2 separate regions of the Homo sapiens genome follow, and region 2 is linked to region 1. A link means that fine-mapping ties the variant in region 1 to the expression of a gene that starts in the linked region. Tissue or cell type: subcutaneous fat. Region 1 holds a variant in brackets; the other region holds the start of a gene. All regions are shown on one strand. Distances are between the middles of the regions.

What was found. PIP is the estimated chance that this variant, and not a neighbour inherited with it, causes the effect. A credible set is the group of variants that fine-mapping cannot tell apart.
Region 2: it holds the start of HOXD4, and the variant in region 1 is the best candidate, but not a certain one, in a credible set for the expression of HOXD4 in subcutaneous fat (GTEx, PIP 0.66).

What each region holds. Positions count from the first base shown.
Region 1 is chr2:177,121,353-177,131,326 of GRCh38, reverse strand. All of the region lies in intron 1 of LOC105373760 (a long non-coding RNA gene), which reads left to right. Among named protein-coding and RNA genes, the nearest start is that of MIR4444-1, 86 kb to the left of the region's middle. The variant G/A (reference allele first, on the strand shown) is at 3,905.
Region 2 is chr2:176,147,456-176,157,429 of GRCh38, reverse strand. HOXD4 (homeobox D4) reads right to left here and starts at 5,880. Exons shown (of 2, transcript NM_014621.3): 1 at 5,364-5,880; 2 at 4,204-4,822. The coding sequence starts at 5,796. The coding sequence ends at 4,488. MIR10B (microRNA 10b) reads right to left here and starts at 7,127; the gene lies at 7,018-7,127. It overlaps HOXD3 (homeobox D3), which reads right to left and starts at 123. Exons shown (of 4, transcript NM_006898.5): 1 at 1-123. RefSeq lists enhancers at 1,660-2,163, 5,428-6,161, 8,690-9,233.

The DNA.
Region 1 (9,974 bases):
TTTGAAATCAGTGTTTTCTAACCCTTGGGTCAATCTCAGAGCATTTTGCTATGAAATTTTCAAAATTAAAGATTACAATTGCAACACTTAATTGTTTAATTTTCTTCTGTGTTATTAGATATTTTGCTGCTAAAATTAGTTGGAGTTGGGAGGAGGAGCACTGGGGCATAACCGTCAGCAGCTGCAGCTTGGAGAAGCTGGTTCTCTTGTCTTCAAGAAGGCAGATCTCTCCCTAGCCTGCTGAGCCTTCTGTGTTTTGGGGAAGGTTTGTATTCTTTCTTCCTCGGGATTATGGCCCTGAGAAAGTGTCTTCTAGTTCTCATCAGGACCAGGATCGAGGACCAGCCCTGGGTCAAAAACATAGGATGTGGGTGAGCACACAGTGGGGCACTGGGCAGTACGGACTGAGTCACCAGACAGTACCTGAGCCATAGAGGGCTGCTGCTGGGGAGGAAGCAGACAGAGGTGCAATGGAGGTGAATGTGCCACGCTAGAGTCAAGCGCCTTCATCAAGATTTAAGGAGAGGGGGAGTGAAGGACTGGAGTAGAAACCACAGGTACAGACATGGAGAAGGTAAGGCCGTTACAGCCTGAGGAGAACAGCGGAGGTTTTAAACGCCTGGCAGGTCTCAGTGGAACTGCTTCCTCAACTCACAGATTAGCTTCTTTTTACCGACTCAGCTTCCTTTCCTGATAAGCCCAGTTGCCATGTAGACTTTGTCAGAATTTAATGCTCTCTTTAAACCAGTGGGTCTCAATATCATTAGAATCATGTGGGAAGCTTTGTTAAAAAGAAAAAAAAAGATGCCTGGGTTCCACTCACCTAGGTCAACAGAATCAGAATCTCTAGGGAGGTGGAGGTGGCATAGGGTTGGTGGAGTTGGGCCCAGGCATATGTGATTTCTTTAGAAGTTCACCATGTGATTCTGATGCCCAGTGAAGGTCGAGAACCATTGCCTTCAGCACTCTTACTTTGAGTAAACAGGATCATTCCCCGCTTTTGAGATTTAAAATTTTAGAATGCTGCAGCTAGATAATACTTTGTGGCGGTGTTTCTCAAACTTTCATGTGCATGTGAATCACCTGGGGATCCTGTTAAAAAGCAGATTCTGGTTTAGGTGACTGGAAGTGGGGCCTAAGCTGTGGCATTTCTCACTCATGTCCCTGTGACATGGGAGCTGCTGGAGTGAGGACCACCTTGATTGCAGTGGAGCTTTAGATCGAATACAGATGGAATGCTGCCTCTGTGCCAGACCCTGTGCTTAGTGCTGTACATTCAGTGCATTCTCACAGCCTCTGAAAGAGGTACTGTTTATAATTCCATTTTACAGGTACGTAAACTAAGGCCTAGATAAGTTAAGTATCTTGTTCAGGATAATAATGCTGGTAAGTAATAAGAGGCAGAATCTGGATCTAGATGGTCTGATTCCAGAAACTGTGAGCTGAACCACAATGTAATACCACTTCAAAGGCAGGATGGGGCTCAGGGGAGGACCTGCAGTTGGAAGAGGTGTTCAAGGACTTGTACTGAAGCTGTGTTTGTATAACAACAAGGTTTTGTTTTCATTTGAGATAGCCCCTGGAAGAGGCGAATAAAAACAGGTATTACAGAGGAGCTAAAGCACTCTAAGCCACTCCTTGGCCTGTCCCTGTAGGCCATGCCTTCATGTTGCTGGGCAGGAACAGGAGTTCATTGCAAGGTGTATATCGCAATTCAGTGGCAATATATTTCAGGTGTCACTGTATATCTCATAGATAGCCAGGTGGCTTCTGACCTTGTGATGACTTTGTTGTCAGAACTGAGGCCCCTTGGATTGTCATGACCTGGCCCTTGCCTGCTTTTCCCCCTCCTCTTCCACAGCTGCCTCCCTGACTTACCCAATGGCAAGCTCTAGACACATTAACTGCTTTCAGTTCCCTGACGGTATCACAATTTTATACTTCATGAATGTTGTCTTCTCTATTGGATGTCTTTGTTATCCTTTTCTTGCCAGGTTAAATGCTACCTTGTTCAACATCCCGGACAATGTAGTTCTTTCAAAAAGAATTTTCTAACCCTCCCAGCCAGGATTAAGTAATTCCCCTCCTCCTTTGGTCTGTCATAGTCCCCTGTTTCTTTTAATTAGAGCACTTAAGTAATTTACTTTTCTATTTAGTCAGACGGTGAACCTCTCTAGGGCTGTGCTTCATTTATCTTTGCATCCCAGGGCTTAGTATAGTATTCAGTAGGTGGTGAGAAGGCTGACAAGCATGTGTATTGAATGAATGAGTGACCCTTTTATTCCCAGTCCAGTGTTCTTTCCAACTGATGATTTGACTAAACTAGTAGTTTTCAATCCTGACTGTAGGGTTTTTAAAATAATCTGGATCATACCCAAGTCAGCTAAATCACAATCTCTTGGGGGTGAGGCCTAGGCATCTGTGTTTTTAGCAAAGTTCCCCAAGTGATTCTAAGATGTAGCCAGGTTGAGAACCAAGGGATTAACCTTTCAGAGTTACTCTTGCTGTGGTTGGAGCATAATAGTTGAAAGTAACATAGAGGAAAATTGTTGTCTGTCTTCAAAACTGAAAAGGAGAAATAGAAGGAAATATATGGGTAAACTGATCACTTACCTAGGCCTTTTGAAAGTAAATATATAAAACAACAGCATTTTAAGGCTGGGATAAGGAAATGTCATAAAACCCAATAATCAATTACGAAGTATGACACTTCTAAAAAGTTGGGAATCATTTTTCTAAAATTATATTAGTATATCATCCCAATCTGTGCTTTTTTGGCTATTTTTATCCATATATCATTTGCCTTGAGTGCTAGTGAATGATCTTTAAAGGCTTTCAACAAATGACTCACCATTCTCTTACTTTATAATATAGTATGCTAATTGGCAGTCATCTTAGGAGTGTTAAAATATGGCAACAATAACATGAAGTTAATTGTAAAGAAAGGGAGTTGGCTCTTTGTGGCTCTAGATCATTCCAGGTATGAGCAGACTTGTAAATACATCTGTTTATTCATTCTCCATGCAAACATTTGGTACTTATCTTCTCTCGGACAAAGTGCTACATATTGGAGGAAAAAGGGTAATATAAGACACCCTCCCAGAAGTTCTCTGTCTTAAATATGAATAATTAACAGTGCACCATGATATGCACAATGGAGGTCCACTCCAATGAGCACAGGAGGGAAGACGTGTCAGGGAAGGTTCACATGAAGCTCACCTACACGCACATAATATACAGCAGTGGTGTCAGGGCACGGATGACATTTCAGATGGTACTGAAAGGACAGCTCCAGGCACACAGCCCAGGTTGGTGGGATCTTGGCTCATTGCAGCCTTGACCTCCCTAGGCTCAGGTGATCCTCCCACCTCAGCCTCCTGAGGAGCTGGGGCTACAGGTGCCGCACCACGCCTAGCTAATTTGTGATTTTTGGTAGAGAAAGAGTTTCAACATGTTGCCCCGGCTGGTCTCAAACTCCTGGGCTCAAGCAATCTGCCTGCCTCAGCCTCCCAAAGTGCTGGGATTATAGGCATGAGCCATCACGCTCAGCCTGATGTGTTTGTGTTTGATTAAATCCATGGCACAAGATTTAATGTGGCATTACAAATGCTGTAATCTCAGCATTTTGGGAGGCTAGGATGGGAGGCTCAGCATTTTGAGAGGCTGAGATGGGAGGCTCAGCACTTGAGTCCAGGAGTTTGAGATCAGCCTGGACAACATAGCAAAACTCTGTTTCCACCTTAAACAAAAAACAACCATAGCACATCCTAATAGAGTTTTATTGGAGACTCACTCTCAAAAAGAGCCCTAAAAGAATTAAATAATGGTATTTAACTGACAGACACATGAAAAAATCTGGTTTCATATCTCAAAGTAACACTAACAGTTTCTTATGCCAGCAGAG[G/A]AAGATCATGTTTTAGAGAGATGGAGGTTTGACCATCTTCAGATAGTGACCTGCCCTTGCAGTACTTCAGAGCTCATCAAAGAGAGGAAGAGAAAAATGGAGTCACAGACTGCCAATTACTGCTTTTGCCTGGAAACAATGCATTTCACTTCCTTTTCTCATTTCATTGGCCAGAAATAATTACATAGCTATGTATAAAATAAGGGGGATGGGGGAATTATAATCTTTGTGTGTCCTGAAGTGGAGAACACTTGAATACGGGGGAATGTTACTAATGTCTACCATAGTCAGTCTCTTCAGCTTCACCCATGTGTGTTGGAAATAGAAGGGTGTGCTCTTCAGACATGAAGAAGAAAAAAATGACTTCATTACTATTGGTTATTATTCTTTTTATATTCTAATATATGTAGGATTGTTGCCAATAAGATTTTTATTTAAGATTGGTAGCAAGACCGGTCTTCATCAATATTAAAACAATTATTTTAAAGCTTTGAAATTAAGTTAAAGGCTATTACTTAAAGCAGCATGAATACGAATTCCAAGTAACAATCAGTATGATGATTGCCTTACTAAAATAACTTCAATTGAATCAATGTGCCCATGTGGAACACCTAGGGATTACAGGAGCAACTTCCATATAGAAGTTACCTCAGTGAGCTGGTTTCAAGCATGAGCCAGCAATGCAAATGCAGGCATATCACTTAAAAAAAAAAAAGAGATGAGGTCTGTCTCTCTCGCCTAGGCTGTAGCACAGTGGCAAAATCACGGCTCACTGCAGCCTAGAACTTGTGGGCTTAAGGGTTCCTCCTGCCTCAGCCTCCCAAGTAGCTGGGACCACAGGTGTGTGCCACCACACCTGGCTAATTAATTTTTTTTTTTTTTTTTTTTTTACAAACAGGGTCTCACCATCTTGCTCAGGCTGGTCTTGAACTCTTGGCCTCAGGTGATCCTCCCACCTTGGCCTCCCAAAGTGCTGGGATTACAGGCATGAGCCACTGTGCCAATGTGCCTGGCCCATTCGAAATACAAGATATATGCATTGTTTTGGTTTTTTAAAATTGCTTTCAAAATCTCTCACACACTACCACTTCTTTCCCCACTGTAGTCAGGAAGGAGGCAAGATTTGGGGAAGAGAAAGGATGGAATCCACTCAGGCTAGTTTTGGTGGAAGTAAAACAGTTTTCTAAGGAAAAAAGGGAACTACACTGTTTCTTTCTTTCCTCCTCCTTGGCTAACGTGTCAAGTGGTTAGGGGACCGTTATTCCCCTCCTTAGCTGGCCCTCTGGAGACTAGCGCTGTCCAATAGACCTTCCTATCCCTGCAATAATGAATATGGTAGCCACTAGGCACAGACGGCTATTGAGTACTGGAAGTGTGGCTACTGCAACTGAGGAACTAAACTCTAATTTTATTGAATTTACTAACTTTAAGTAGCCATGTGAATTCAGGTGATAGGAGAGAGGGAGGTTGTTCTTATTCCTGTTTTCGGTGTAGATTTTTCTGTACATCACAATGATTTTATCTTCCACACAAGATGTTGAAGATGAGCTGAGTCAGTGGGGGATCGGGTGGGAGTGAAGCGTGGACCGAGGCAGAGCCTGCTGCAATGCCTCCCTTCCTAGCCAGTGCAGACCAGGCTCCCTTCATGATCACTGGCGGACAGGACCAAGTGATGCCCAAAGACGGCACAGACACTAAAATGGGGACGATTACATGAATCTCAGACCTGATTTTGTTTTAAAGCCTATGACTTAGGATATGAGAAAAGAAGAAAGAGGCAAATAAACCTAGTGTGGTAACCTTTTAACATAGCATTAGCATCCATTTTTTCATAATATATTTGGATATAAAATCTTTATTGTGCTCAAAATTCTTATTAAAAATGCAGTGAACTGTAGTTTGTACATTTGCAGCCTCTCATTCCTCAAATTGTTCTTTTGTAAGAAATAATTTCTTTGATGGTCATTGTTTAATGAAAGACATGGGCAGTTATAAAAGAAAACTAATGTCATCAAACATTCATCTGGTGACTCCTATGTGCTGGTGCTATGCTAACAATGAATGGCACTTTGCAACACTAATTTTTAGCAAAATAACGACTTCTTAGCTGTAAAGTCCCCATGGGTGTGTGTCCTAGAGGCATATATTCTTTTCTATCTTTGTCTACGGTTCATTTTGGAAAACACCTACTTTTATTACACGATTGTAAAAATTAGTGCTCATATTAAACAATTTAATGAACCGAAGTGCCTCAGTCCTTTCGAAGCCTGACTGGCCTCCTCTAGATCTTTGGGCAGAGGTCAATGTAGAGTGATTTGCTGAAATGCTTGGATTTTATTCTTGAGATTTAACATGAAGGCAAGTGAGTGAAGTGAGGTAGGAAAGCACGTATGATTTCAAGATAATCTGATTTTTTAAAAGATAGAACATTTCACTTTCTGAATTAAAATTATCATCTTAAATAACCTTATCTCAAAGGAAGTCCTATTCCAAACATAATATCTAACAACATCAAATTTTTTTCTACCAGTACATACGTATAAACAGGAAAACTATTTTTTAGCGGAAAGTTAATTGTTGATACCACCATATTTGTACTCAAATGCAAGACCATTTCTAGTTCCACCCTCCCCACCGTACATTCCAGAGCCCACCTTTATTTTACCCTGACATTGTACCAGCATAAAATTCCAATATGCTAATTACTTCTCCAGATCATGCCATAGTTCTGATGCCATAAGACAAATATTAAAGGTTTACTTTTTATGTTCAGAATAATTGGGTAATTGTCGTCATCCTGTGACAGGTTTCCCTTTTTCCTGAGGTCTTTTGACTAATGGTTCTATTGTTATTGTTGGAGTGGCTCATGCCCCATTGTGTCATGACGCAAAACTTGATCTGTGGTAGAAATGCCTTACACATTTATTCCCTCCAGGAAACCAAAGGGCAAGAAAGTAACATTCCAGATTGAGAACCTGGCTTTTTGCACCATGACCTAACCTGTTCCAGGTGAAAAATATTAGGCCAAAAATAGTTTCATGAGAAAATTTTTACGTGAGTTCCTGCAGTGGTTCTCAGTACTAGCTGCTTGTTAATTAGTTAGTTAATTGATGGGCAGCTTAAAGCAATCACTATGTGGGCCCCACCTGAAACTTGTTAAAAAAGACTGATTTCTGGGGGCCCCATTATATGCTGTTGAAATTTAGACTCTCCACAGGAGGGTCCTGGGTATCTGTACTTTAAACAAAACTCTCAGATTATCAAATAAATTTGGTCAACTTGATTTAAGGTATTGATCTTGGGAAAGAGCACTTCATACTTTTTTTGAAATAAACTTAGTGGCCTTCAAGACATATTTCTAATGCCAGTATCTTACTTGTCTTCTTTTACTTATTTGCATATGAATACTATTAAAGAAGGAATATTTAACCATAGAGAAGGTTTGTTTACATTTTTGTCTTCAGCCAAATCAAGCCTTTCATAATTTTATGTATTAAAAATAAAATTTAGATCAGACTCCCATCTCTACAAAAAATGCAAAAATTATTGTAGCCAGGTGCGGTGGTATGTGCCTGTAGTCCCAGCTGCTTGGGTGGCTGAGGAAGGAAGATCGCTTGAGTCCAGGAGTTTGAGGCTGCAGTGAGCTATGATTGCATCACTGCATTGCAGGCTGGGCAACAGAGTGAGAACCTGTCTAAAATAAATTGCATTTTCAAGTTGTACTTTCAGCAGCACCAGATAGTATGCTGGAGCTCAGAGGCCAGGAGAGGAGCACTTTCCCTCTACTTATTATAAGAGGTAACTTAATACTGATGGAGGAGTGTCTTGGGTTCTTACACTTGGAGACCAATTTGTCATTCCATTCAACACAAAATAACAAGGGATTCACTAGTTCATACATTATTTCTATTCAACAAATGTCGTTTGACTGTCTACTGTATGCCATACTGTGTTAGGTATCAGGGATACAAAATAAAGTAAATTGGGATTTTTTTCTTGTTAGAACTGGTAGGTTAGAGCAGATATTCTTAAGGTGTGATCTCTATCCAGCAGCATTGGCATCCCTGGAAACTTGTTAGAATTGCATATTCTCTTGCCTTACCCCAGACCCACTAAATCTGATTCTCCATAAAGCTTGAGAACCACTGGCCTCTAGGAGGAGCGATCAGTTCAGCAGAAAATTAGAGTACCTTGTGGTAGATACAGTGGAGATGGGGAGGAGGCTAGGACTTTAGGAATGTTTCTGGGAGGAAGAGATGCTTGAGCTCTCTAAAATATTTGGTGCAGAGTGGGGGGAGGTGTTCCTAGAGAGGTCAGCAGGAGCCACACAAAAAGCCATGTTGCATTTTACTCTGAATGCAACATGGAATCTTTTGGACCCTATAGTCAGTTCATTTACAATTATCATCAATGTGATCTTTTGACCAGACTTTTAGCTAAGTGGTGCTGGTCTTGAGCTCTGTGTTTCAGGTGCTTCCTCAGATATGGGAAGTTAGAGAAATGCAGGTGTAAAAAATTCCTCTCGCATTAAAATCTAACACAGTAGTGTTAAATAAAGATTTGGTGAATAAACACAAATAAATGAAAGAGTGGATAAAGCTAGGATTTGGGGAAGGTAAGGAAAATGTGTAATGAAAACATAGCAGCATAAGCACTGGTTTTTGAGTGAATTGAAAATCCCATGGCATTCAAAAAATTACACAGACCTTCAGTGGTTTAATCAAAGAAAATAAGTATCTCTCCCATTTTTCAGCAGCCGGAGTTCAAAGGCTCAGAGTCACTACGTAGGACGGAGTGGGAAGAGAAGCAAGGAGAACTCTGTCAGTTCTCCTGGATTGCCTTCCTCCTGTCTTCCTGAACATTTGCGCAGTACGGTTAGTGGGCACTAACTGTGTTCCAGGGACTCTACACATATTATTTATAATACATTCAACACCAATAGAAAGTAGATGTTTTCCTCCCAAGTTTTAAAAGGATCTAAAATTCACAGGGCTCTGGAGTCTGAGGAAGAAAATGGTTTATCTAGAAATTTCTGGGAAAAACATGGCTATTCACTCATGGTCAACTTGAATTGAGGAAATTGGAATACCAAGAGGTTAAGTGACTCGCTCAAAGTCAACATGCTCATAACTAAGGATATCTGGGATTCAACACCAGGTCTGTGTAACAGCAATTTGTTCCAGTGATCTGTGTGACCAGGGGAACCCTGAGTGTCCTACCCCAAGAGATGGCCTGTTAAATGTCCCGGCTCTTCAGGATACCTTATACATTCCTCAATTGACCCCACAAAGCATTTTCCCTTTCCTGGAAAATTCAATTGCCAGAAACACTTACCCCACTATGATCACACATCACTATCTAAACTCATGCAAAAGACACATATTGCCTGTTTTCAAGTACAATGAATATTGAATTTAAGCTTTTACCATATGGTAGCTAACCCAATGATTTATAGAACTTATTTTCACTTTCTGTGTCTAAACAATAAATGATTGTTTTATATTTATAGCAACATAGGAGCAATCTTCACAGATCTCAGTAACAAGTTTTTAATTTTATTGGCCTGGCATTATGTGGCTCTTGAAATGGCCATAAGGTCTAGGCACAAAATGGACTGACTTCTCATGACTAAGGATTTTATAAGTAGAATTTAATTGTTGCCTTTAACTCAATGAATAAATGTTGAAAAAAAAGTATGCATATGTATATAGACCAAAACTTTATTTTATAGCAAATTCTTGTACCTAGCATGAATTATGTACCACATATAGGTTTTTTATCAAAACTGACAGAGAAGGGTAATAAATCACATTTACCTTAAAAACCCAACTCACCCATTTAATTTTGTGTTCTTTCTTCTTATACTTAACAATAAAGTGGTTAATAAACAATAAAAGAGATGGACTTTGGTTTTAAAAAATGAAGCTTTCTATAATTTAAAGAAGTTTTATAGAAGACATGTTTCCTAACTTCCTAGATTTCCCCTCTGGTTTATTAAAAAACATGACATAAAAAACATGATAAAAGCCGAACAATTATTAGTCACTTTCTATCATTTCAGTTGAATTAT
Region 2 (9,974 bases), 970 kb after region 1:
CCGGGGGCCGGGGGTGGAGGGCCGGGGGCACCGCGCGGCCCCCCTGGACGGGTGATATTCTTGGGATCCCTGCACTTTCCAAGTCGGAGAGAGCCCTTTGCGTGGCAGATTAATGACGACTCCGTGTTTCTTAAGGGACGTGCTGAATTAATTATTTCGCCAATCACGTGGTCGGGACTTGTAGAAATCTATTCTTATCATCTTCCTCGCACTTAGAAAATTCTCCGGGTTATGAAAGGCCCTCCCCCGGCTGCCAGCGAGCCCCGGCCGCCCAGCCCGGCGCGGGGGGCAGGGAGGGCTCCCCAACATGGCGGGCAGGCGGGCGGGAAGCGCCGTCCGCCGAGGGTCCCGATTTACTGTACTCTATACTCAGCGGGCTCTGCTATGGACTCGCTTCCTCCTCATCCCTGCCCGCGATTCAATACACACAACGGTATTGATGTATTGGTGGGCACGGGAGGAGCCATTAAGCAGAAGACGGGCAGAGGACAATCATAAAATGTGTCTGAATATTTAAACTTCTGCCTGCGCACTTATAAATACACATGTCCACGCGTCTGGGGCAAGCCCTTCCATATATTAAGGACAGATGTCTGATTTTATGCATTCTGCTCATTTCCTGTCTGGAACAAGCACCCCCATCTATTTTGGGACTCCTGTCTTGGCCCCTTCTTCAAGGCGAGGCCAAGATGTAAAGAAGCCCTTGCGGTAAATGTAGTGCAGGGCACTTTTTATAGTGGGGAGTGTTTATTGTTGCCTGAGGGGTGGAGGGGGCGCGGAAGAAGGAGGGGCAGGTGCTGGAGTCCCCACAGGAGCTTAACAGTACTGGAAAAGTAGAAGCCCAAGAGTGGAGGCCCGGGGGTCAGGTCAGAGCAGCCACCCAGGAGCCTCAGCTCGGCCCAGAACCCAGCACGCTCTCCCTGCCTTAGGGGTGGGGGACCAGTAAGGTGTCTCATCCACCACTTCCCAAAGACTTCCTCTGAGGGCTTCCAGACCAAAAAGGTCTGGGGCCTGGCCCGGGCCCAGCAGAATGCCAACCTGGATCCCCCTATTAACCTGGGCAATTACTTTTTCTTCAAAAAATTAACACCCAACACTCTGTACCCTGAATTCAACCCCAGGCTTCCCAATGCTCACAAAATATGGTGGCCAACTGGGAGTGTGTGTACATTAAGGAGGTGGTAATAATAGAATTGCTAAGCCTTACATGGTTTAACCTTCACACTTTAGGCACCCCCCAAAAAATGGTGCCTAATTTATTGCAGAAAATAATAACTTGTTTATGTTAAATGTTAGCTTTTAGAAGACTTAACAAAGGATGAATGCTTCTGTTAAGGCACCAAACAGGAGGGAGATTTTGCTACACCTTTTATTATTTTAAATATAGATCAATGAATTACATCAAAACTACAAGCAACAATTAGTATAAATAATACTTTAATCAGTGGCAGCAAAACATTGGTCAATTCTATTAAAAAAGCATCTCGTGTGAACAGACATCATGGGCTGACTGACAGTGTCATCTCCCAACAAAAGGCTGCGATGGACAAAGTGAGATGGGAGTCAGAGGAGCAATGTCCTCAGCAAACACTTCACTCTCCCCCTCCCCCAGTCAGGACCCCAACACGGTTTTTGTTTTTGTTTTTAAAACACCAACACAAACACTTCTGGCTCATATTTAAAGGAACAAACTGGAAACAAATAATAGCAAATGGGCATTGGAGCTTTTCCACACCTAGCTTTCTCCAAAGCACGTTCTCAGATGGAAACCCATTTCCTTCCCTGCCCTAAGTGGTTACGGGGCCCTACCCCTTCCCTGGCCCACTCCTGTGGGCCCAAATGGATGCTGGGGTCCGACTGGGACCTCAGGGTTGGGGGCTGCACTCTGGGCCATCCAGGCTCCATTAACATTTCAAAAGAATCCCTCCAAGCTGAGAAGGAGAGCTGAGACTTATAAACAAAGAAGTTGTTTCTCTGATTAAGTTACTTTCCAAAGTAGTGGGGCTATGTTTGAGAAGGAGCTTGGGTTTTCCTCATGAAAACATGTTTCTTGGCTTTCCTCTGGGGCAGGGATGCAGTCAGTTAAGCCTGTGTGGCATTTGGTATGAAACTGGGGGTGAGTAACCTGAACTTCTGAGGTGGGGGAAAATCTATACAACAAATCTCTATTATATATATGTAATTGGATGTTGTGAAAATATATACCTTTTTCCCCTTCTCAAAGAGAAGGTTCAATGTATAGACAGATTTGGGTTTTAGGAAAGCAGCTTAGCAACTTTCCAACTTGCCTAAGGATAGCGGCTCCTTTCAAATGGTACATCCAAAGACTGCTCTCCATGTTAGAGAGGAAAAAAGAAGAGAAGGGTAGTTAGAGTCCAAAAGGTTAGGGGTTTAGAGGTCAGTCCTCCCGGCTGAAATACAGCTAATCAAATAGAAAATTTGTCCTCTGGATGAACCTGATTCTGTAATTTACCCGAACTTCGGTAAAATACCTTTTCAGCTTCTCAACGTGAGGGCGTCAGAAAAAAGACGTCTTGACTATGTATGAACTCTGTGCTTTTTGTCATAGAAACAATGATGTGAATAATGCACGAATATCCATCTTTAATATCCCGACGTGGTGACATTCAAGTATTGCCATGTGCAAGTCTGAGAGCCAGGCTCACCCCAAGGAGAAACAAAGAGCAGTCCCCAGGGTCTAATACAAAAGACCAAGGCTTGGAAGACACTTCAGAGAAGCGGAATTTCAGCCTAGGGACTGCAGTGAATACCTGCCCTCAGCTCTCAGGAGACACAGCCAAAGAACAAGCCTACAGAGAAACTCTTTTTTCCCTCCCACTTAAATATATTTTTTAAATTACAACAGAAACCTTCTAAAGTGTTTTTGAAGTACTGAAAAAAATACCCCCCTTCTGGATCTTAAAATTAAATTTTAAGCTTATCCTTTCTCCCTTTCCCACTTTGGTCACTTTTTGATAGCTACAACCTTTTTTGGAGCCTGAGGCCTTGGGAAGACTGGTTTCATCTGAGTATATGAACTCTGGCCATTAACTTTGACTTCTTCCTCCTTATGCTTGAGGGTCAGCATTTTAGAAAAATGAACTTTGAACCCTTCCCAGGAGAGGCAGAAGAAAAACGACTAGAGGACATCTCCCCTGTTGAGAGTGATTCTTTAAAAAACCACTATTCTCAAGGCAAAGACGAGTGCTTGAAAACTTTTATACTTTTACAAATTCTGCTTCTAATTAATGAGCTGAGGAAAACTTCCTTAGATTTGGTTTTTAAAAAAATTAAAACTTCAGGGGGAAAAAAACTCTAAGGCTAACTTTTGTGGACTTCTAGATTCAATTAGGGTTTTTTTTTTTTCCTTCTTAAAGCAAGAGTTCCTCACCTTCCCACTTTCTCCCCACTGCACAGCCCCTCCCCTACACAGGCCATACACTAATTCCTGTAAAACACTGCTATATGAGGGTATTTAGGGCATTTGGAATCCAGTTGGAACAGAAAATTCAGTCATTATCTAATGACCCAGTGCATAGAGGTTTTGTTTTCTTTCCCCAGAAGGAAAATGTTGGACCATTTGTTGGTTTTTTTCCCTTTCCTTTAATCACCCAGAACTGGTTGTAAGCACAGTGCTGAAAAAAACACATGTGGAAATATATTTTCAAGAATGCAACTTTGAGTGAATCCTTTGCTTCCTTCTGGAAGGGTTAAGGCCCCCCTATATACATTTCCAGAGAGTGGGGAGGGGTGGAGTTCAGAAGTAAGTGCACATATCTCTGATTCTGCTCCCTGAAGTTCAGCCCCTTTCACCTTTTTAAGATTTTTGGCATGAAGGTGTCAGTTATTTCTGTACCACATTTCCCAACAAATAAATATTTAAGCAAATATCTAAACATAAAATAACCCATTTTTACTTCCTTCTTAGACCCATTTCTTTGGAGGTGGGGCCACTGGGAGCAAAATATATATTTTTTAATCACATGAAATTCCATAGACAACCCAGAAAGTCCAGAAATCCTGACCCAGCTCTCTGGCTTCCACTGAAAGCACCTAGCACAGGGGTGGCCAACCTTCTGCCTCAACTCCCCCACATTATTAAGCCACAAAGCACCCTGGAGGGGTGGAGTGGGGGAGAATGTCCAAATTCACAGTGGGATAAAGCATCCAACCTTCATTTGCAAATTCAAAATCCAAGAGCGGTGATTTTCATAAGTTTAATGACTCGCCAAGATTTTATGTTCTCAGTAGCTCCTGCCATATAATATACTTAGAGAGAGAATCCCGCCCCCCCTCCCATCCCCATCCCGCTCTAGGGAGGGGGCTGCCCTCGGGCAGGATGCTAACCTAGTCCGAGGGCGGCCTGCTTGTCCCAGGTCCACCCCACAGTACCTTAGAGCCCAGCGAGGTGACAGCAGGCCCGGCCTGCCCCCGCAGCTTCGGCTCAGCCTGGTGCGCAGGGAGAGATGGGCCCAGGGTCCCCACTTCTATAAGGTCGTCAGGTCCGTGTGGTGGTCTTTGGCCATCGGCTGTAAATGCTGGCTGGGGGCGACTGAGGAGGAGCAAGATGAGGAGGAAGATGAGGACGATGACCTGCCTTTAGTGTTGGGCAGCTTATGATCTTTTTTCCACTTCATCCTCCGGTTCTGGAACCAGATCTTGATCTGGCGCTCCGACAGACACAGGGTGTGAGCGATTTCAATCCGACGGCGCCTTGTCAGATACCTGTTAAAATGAAATTCTTTTTCCAGTTCTAGGACTTGCTGCCGGGTGTAGGCCGTTCGGGACCGCTTGGGTTCCCCACCGGTGTAGTTGGGGTTCACTGCGAGACAAAACAGACAGGACAGGCAGGTCAGCGCCCGGCCACTAGTTAGGCCCCTCGCCTCCGCCGCTCACTTCCTGGCGCGCCCCGAGGCCCGCGGCCCTCCCCGCGCGCTCCCAAGCTCGCTTGCTTCCTCCCTCCCGCCCTCTCCCCGGCGCACACGCTCACTCCCACCCACCTCCTCAAACACACCCACATACCCCAGGCTTGCGGGATCCCCAAATGTGCTCCTTCTTCTGGGCCCACCACCAGGTCCGGAACCCTCAAGCATTTTGGAAATCCCCCGCTCCTCCACAGCCTTCCCCCTGCTCTGAAAATGGAGTCCTCCCCCACCCCCCCATCCCCACCCCCTTTTGCGCCCACAGCCGAGCAGCCAGCCACATGGTCCTGACCTGCTCCCTCAGCTATAAAAATTTATGGGGAGAGTAATTGCGGCGCCCATGGAAGCTCCACACGCCCCCACCTACTCGCACCCCCTTCCAGAGGACCCAGGCTAACGGGCTGGGATGTGGACAGAAAGGTTACTGGACCCTAGCCTTACCCGAATTCACGTGCACCTTCTTCATCCAGGGGTAGACCACGGCCGGCTGCTTGAGTGCCGTCCCGGAGGGCGGCTGCTTGGGGTCGGACTGACTGTAGGCCCGGGCGCCAGGCAGGGGCGCCGGCGGAGGCGCCGGGGGAGCTGGGCAAGGCTCTCCTGGAGCGGCGTAGTGACCGCCGGGGCCGCCTGGCTCTTGTCCGTGACCCCGCGCAGGCAGCGCCGAGCCAGGCCCGGGGCCGCTGCCTCCGAAAGGCTGCTCACCGAAGTCGGGCCGTGGGTAGAGCCCCGGGGGCTGGAAGTCTGCGCCCTGCGCGCCGCCGCCGTAGTAGTCGGCGCCCTGCTCGCCTAGGTAGCCGCCCTGCAAATACTCCTCGCACGGAGGGAACTTGGGGTCCACATACTTGGAGTTCACCATATACGAACTCATGACCATTAATTTCAGAAGGTAGAAAATACTAATTTTTCTCGTGTTGTCTTTTTTTCTCCTTCCATAGGGCCCTCCTACTTGCTGTCAACTGAATAAAGTTGGGCAGCCATGTGACCAGGCCAGCCAATGGCGAGGGAGCAAGTTTATCACCGGGTTGGTGAGCATCTCATAATTTTCACAAATTTAACTAAATAACATACGTGTAATCAAGTAGCTTGCTATGGCACATTTGAGAGCCCCTGCCAGATATTAATGTAGTTCCAGTCCCCAGCACCCCATTCCCCTCAGGTAATCCCAGCTTTTGTCTGCCACTGATTTTGCCAACCTTCCGTGGCCCTTCCACTCACCCCCAGCTGAATGCAACCCCCGCCCCCCGACACCAAGTAGGCACAGCTCAAGGGAGAATGAATCCTCCTATTGGGGTACAGAGCAATGAAAGGTGGGTGGGTGAACTCGCCTCTGAGTTGGGCAGAGTGCCCCAGGCGAGGAGGGTTCCTGCCTGCCCGCCCTGCCTGCAGCCGGCGGGAGCAGGGATTCTGCCATACAAAGGCCGCCGTCCTGGCTTTGTCTTCATCAGGGTCACCCAAAAGTTACCAGAATCTGGCCAGCTTGAATCAAATTAGGCAATGAGTAACCGCCATGCTTTCTACCAGTGCCCAGGCCCGGGGGTTCCCAGCCAAAGCTGGGCCCTGCCAAAATAGCAGGGGGCCCTCGCTGCCCTTGCCCATGTAGCTGGGGGTGGGCTGGGATGGTGGCAAGGGCACCTCCACCTTGTCAAAATGCACCCTAGAGCTCCCCACTGGGCTTCTTTGAAGCTTGCTTTCTTCCCACAGGCCCCAAATACAAGCAAGCCCCCATTTGGGTACCTTTGCACCTCATGTTCCTGGAGGGCAGAGCTGGGACTGGGCAAGCTGGCCTTGTACCTCACTCCCTAGTACCCCAAAACCTAGCCCTTTGGCCCTGCATCCATGCAACCAATTAGGCTTGCATTCTCTCTTTCTCTCTCTCTCTCTCTTTCTCTCTTTCTGTCTTTCTTTCTTTTCAGCACCCAGAGGATACTCTGTTTAAAGGTGAGGAGCTTCTGGAGAGGAAAAGCTGCTCTATGTCACCAGGCGCAGCTGATCCTCCTGGAGTCCAAGGTAATAAAACAGAACGAGGCGGCTGACCAGCGCCGGCTGCTTCTAGTCTCCATGTCGCACTTTGGTCTCTGGCTATTCCGAAGAAACGTGAAGTTTTTGCATCGACCATATATTCCCCTAGAATCGAATCTGTGACTATACGGATACCACACAAATTCGGTTCTACAGGGTATATATAGACAACGTTACAACCTCTGGGTCCCACCCAGAGTGAGGTACCTAGGTCGCTGCCGGCCCCAATCTCTTCCTCTGAGCCACCACCGTTCGACGCAGCCACCCGCACTTTCTGAGACAGTTCAGGTAGCCTAATGGGCTTGGCGACAATTTGAAGCAATGAGTTCCCTCATTCTTCTGCCAGGGTCAGGGTTACCAAGCAGGCGAACAACCAGAATATTCTTCTTAAGAAAGAAAAAAAGAAAGAAAGAAAGAAAAATAATCCATCCCAAGGATGGCGGCTTTATTAACCACCCTCCCCCACCAGGATCCAAATAACCCTCCTCCTTACCAAGTGGTATTTTCCAGAAAGGAACAAATGCCCTCAGCGGCAGAAGAAAAAGAAGCGAGAGGGGAATATCCTGTGTCTACTCCTTTTCCTACTGCCCGACCAAGCCAGGTTGTCTGCCAAAGCTACTTCTCCAAGAAGTCGCGCATTTACCTTCATGGGCCCTGATCCGGGCTGGCCTCTCCGTTCCGCTGCTGCTGCAGACCCCGAGGCAGGCGCTGCTCACAGGCACCGAGCCGCCTTGGGCTGAGGCCGGCGCGCTAATGGTGAAGGGCAGGGCGAGGGGTCATTCGAAATCATTTACAAACATATCACAAACTTTCATTATTTTTGCTTTGCCGACAGCAGCACACAAGAGTACAAAAGTTCACAAATTTCACCCGCCCCAGCGCCTCGGCACTGTGCAGTGCTTGTCCCTCAGTTCAGGGCATGGAGAGCGCAGACTCACTCAGAGCCTCGATGGATTTCAGGGGCACAGGGATGCCCTGGCTCGAGTGGGGCTTTTGGGTGCCTAACTGTAGGCTGAAGGTGTTAGATTTTTTTTTAACTGTCTTGATTGCCCTTCCTACCTCCCACATAATTCAAAATTTAGTTTCAAGCCTGGGCCTGGGCCTGGTGGGGTGGGGCAGGGATACTCCCCCTCCAAGCCTGGCACTTTGCTCATCCCCCCATCCTTTGCTTCCACCACTTTACCTGTTTCGTAGGGATTTTGGGGGCGCCAGTTCTAACAAGGGCTATGAGGCTGCAGAATCTGTTTATCCCAGGAGAGTCCCCCCAATTTCCCTGAATGCCAAAGACTCCCAAGTATCCACCTTCCTGGGACACTGGGCCTAGGCTCTATCCAGACAAATTGGGGGAGCCTGCTGAGCCGGCTGGAGACCGGGGTGAATATACACATTTTCATATTTGTTAGACGCTGTGACCTGCATTTCACCTTATTGCTCGACTTGTTCAGACAGGTCAAAGCCAACGAGTTATTGATGAACAAAAGCGTTAAATATTCACCTCCCGCTCAACTGCCCATACTAATGCTTTTGATCTCTAGGGCTTTTTGTGCTGTGTTCAGCTACAGGGCGCTGAATGTGGGTTTGCTAGCGAGAAGCTTCTGCAGAGATAAGCACCCAGAGCCAGTGCAGGGGAGGAGAGAAGCAAGACCAGAGGTCCCCAGGACACCAGATTTTCCAGACTGGAGCCCAGAGCCCCTTTCACTTGAGCCAGCCTGGTGTATAGGGGTAGTTGCTCTTCTAGGGGTGTGCACAGTCTACAAAGGGTCGACTAGACTGCCCAGCCCAGCGGGGCCAAAAAACCTGTCTCTGAGGCCAGCCCCAGCTTTTCCAACCAAGAAGGAGGGAGACTGGTTCCTGCAGCCCTCACATATTCCAACTCCCATTAAAATAAAATCACTTCCGTTTTGCAGTGAGGGAGGGGCCACAGTTCTTTCTGTGACTCTCCCTCCAATACCATCGTCTTAATGAGATGGTCCTCCAGGAGGCTTCACAGGCCTAATCAGAAATGTACCTGTCTTTCGCGGCACAGGCAACTCAGAAAGATCCAAACATCCAAGCCAAGGATCCCACGAGTCTCTGGCCCCACCCCACCGCATCCACCCCACTCCACCCTCCTATGCCTCCTTGCAGCACCAGCGCCTCTGGGGCGGAAATTCTCCAACTGCAGTTACAGAGAAGCAGAGGTGAAAAGAAGGTCCGTATCCCTCCTCGCTCAGCCAGTGTCCCAAGCCCAGGGCCCACACCGCTGCAAACAGATCGGGGGAGGGGCGGGGAAGGAATGTCCACATAAAGCTCAGAAGCGGGCAACTCAACACACCCACGGCCACAGAGGATTGAGTTTTTGTTTTCAGTGAATTTTTTTAAAAACAGAAGGTTGGCCAGGCTAGACCAGGTTAAGAAGGGTTGGGCTGCGGAGGGGACCGCATTGCCTTGGTGTTTACTGCGTTGGTTTGAAGCCGCTAATAAGACAGGCTGCTAATTAGCAAGCTCTTAACAGAAGTGAGCGCCTTGGCGGAGCTGCACCTGTGCAGAGCAGGGAAGGGCCGCGAAGGTCTAGGGAGGCCCAAGGAGACAAGGGCGAGACCCCGCGGACCGTTCTCTCAGGCAGGTGTCTGTGAACCAGGCCCCAGAAAAGCTTTCCGGGACCTCGATTTAGCGCCTCCACCTCCCGAAGCGGGCTAACCTCGCAGAGCGAGGCCGGGGGTGGAGGGTGGGGGTGGGGTGGGGGAGGCAGGGCCTTTCTTCTATCCGCCCACTCCGCTGGCTTGGCCCCTTAGCCCACCACTTCCCCGCGATCAGTACCGTCTCTTCGCGATTCGGAAGAAGCGGGAAGGTACTTACAGCGGCGCTCTCTCATGGTCCTGAACCTGTTGCAATGAAAACGGGGATCACTTAAATTCCACAGGATAATAAAGCAGACACATATAACACACAGAAAAATGACAAGGCCCAGATACCCCACCAATACCCAGACCTCCCTGCTTCAGGTGCCCGCCCCCGGGAACTGCGCAAAGTTCTCCGCAGAGCCGGAGACCG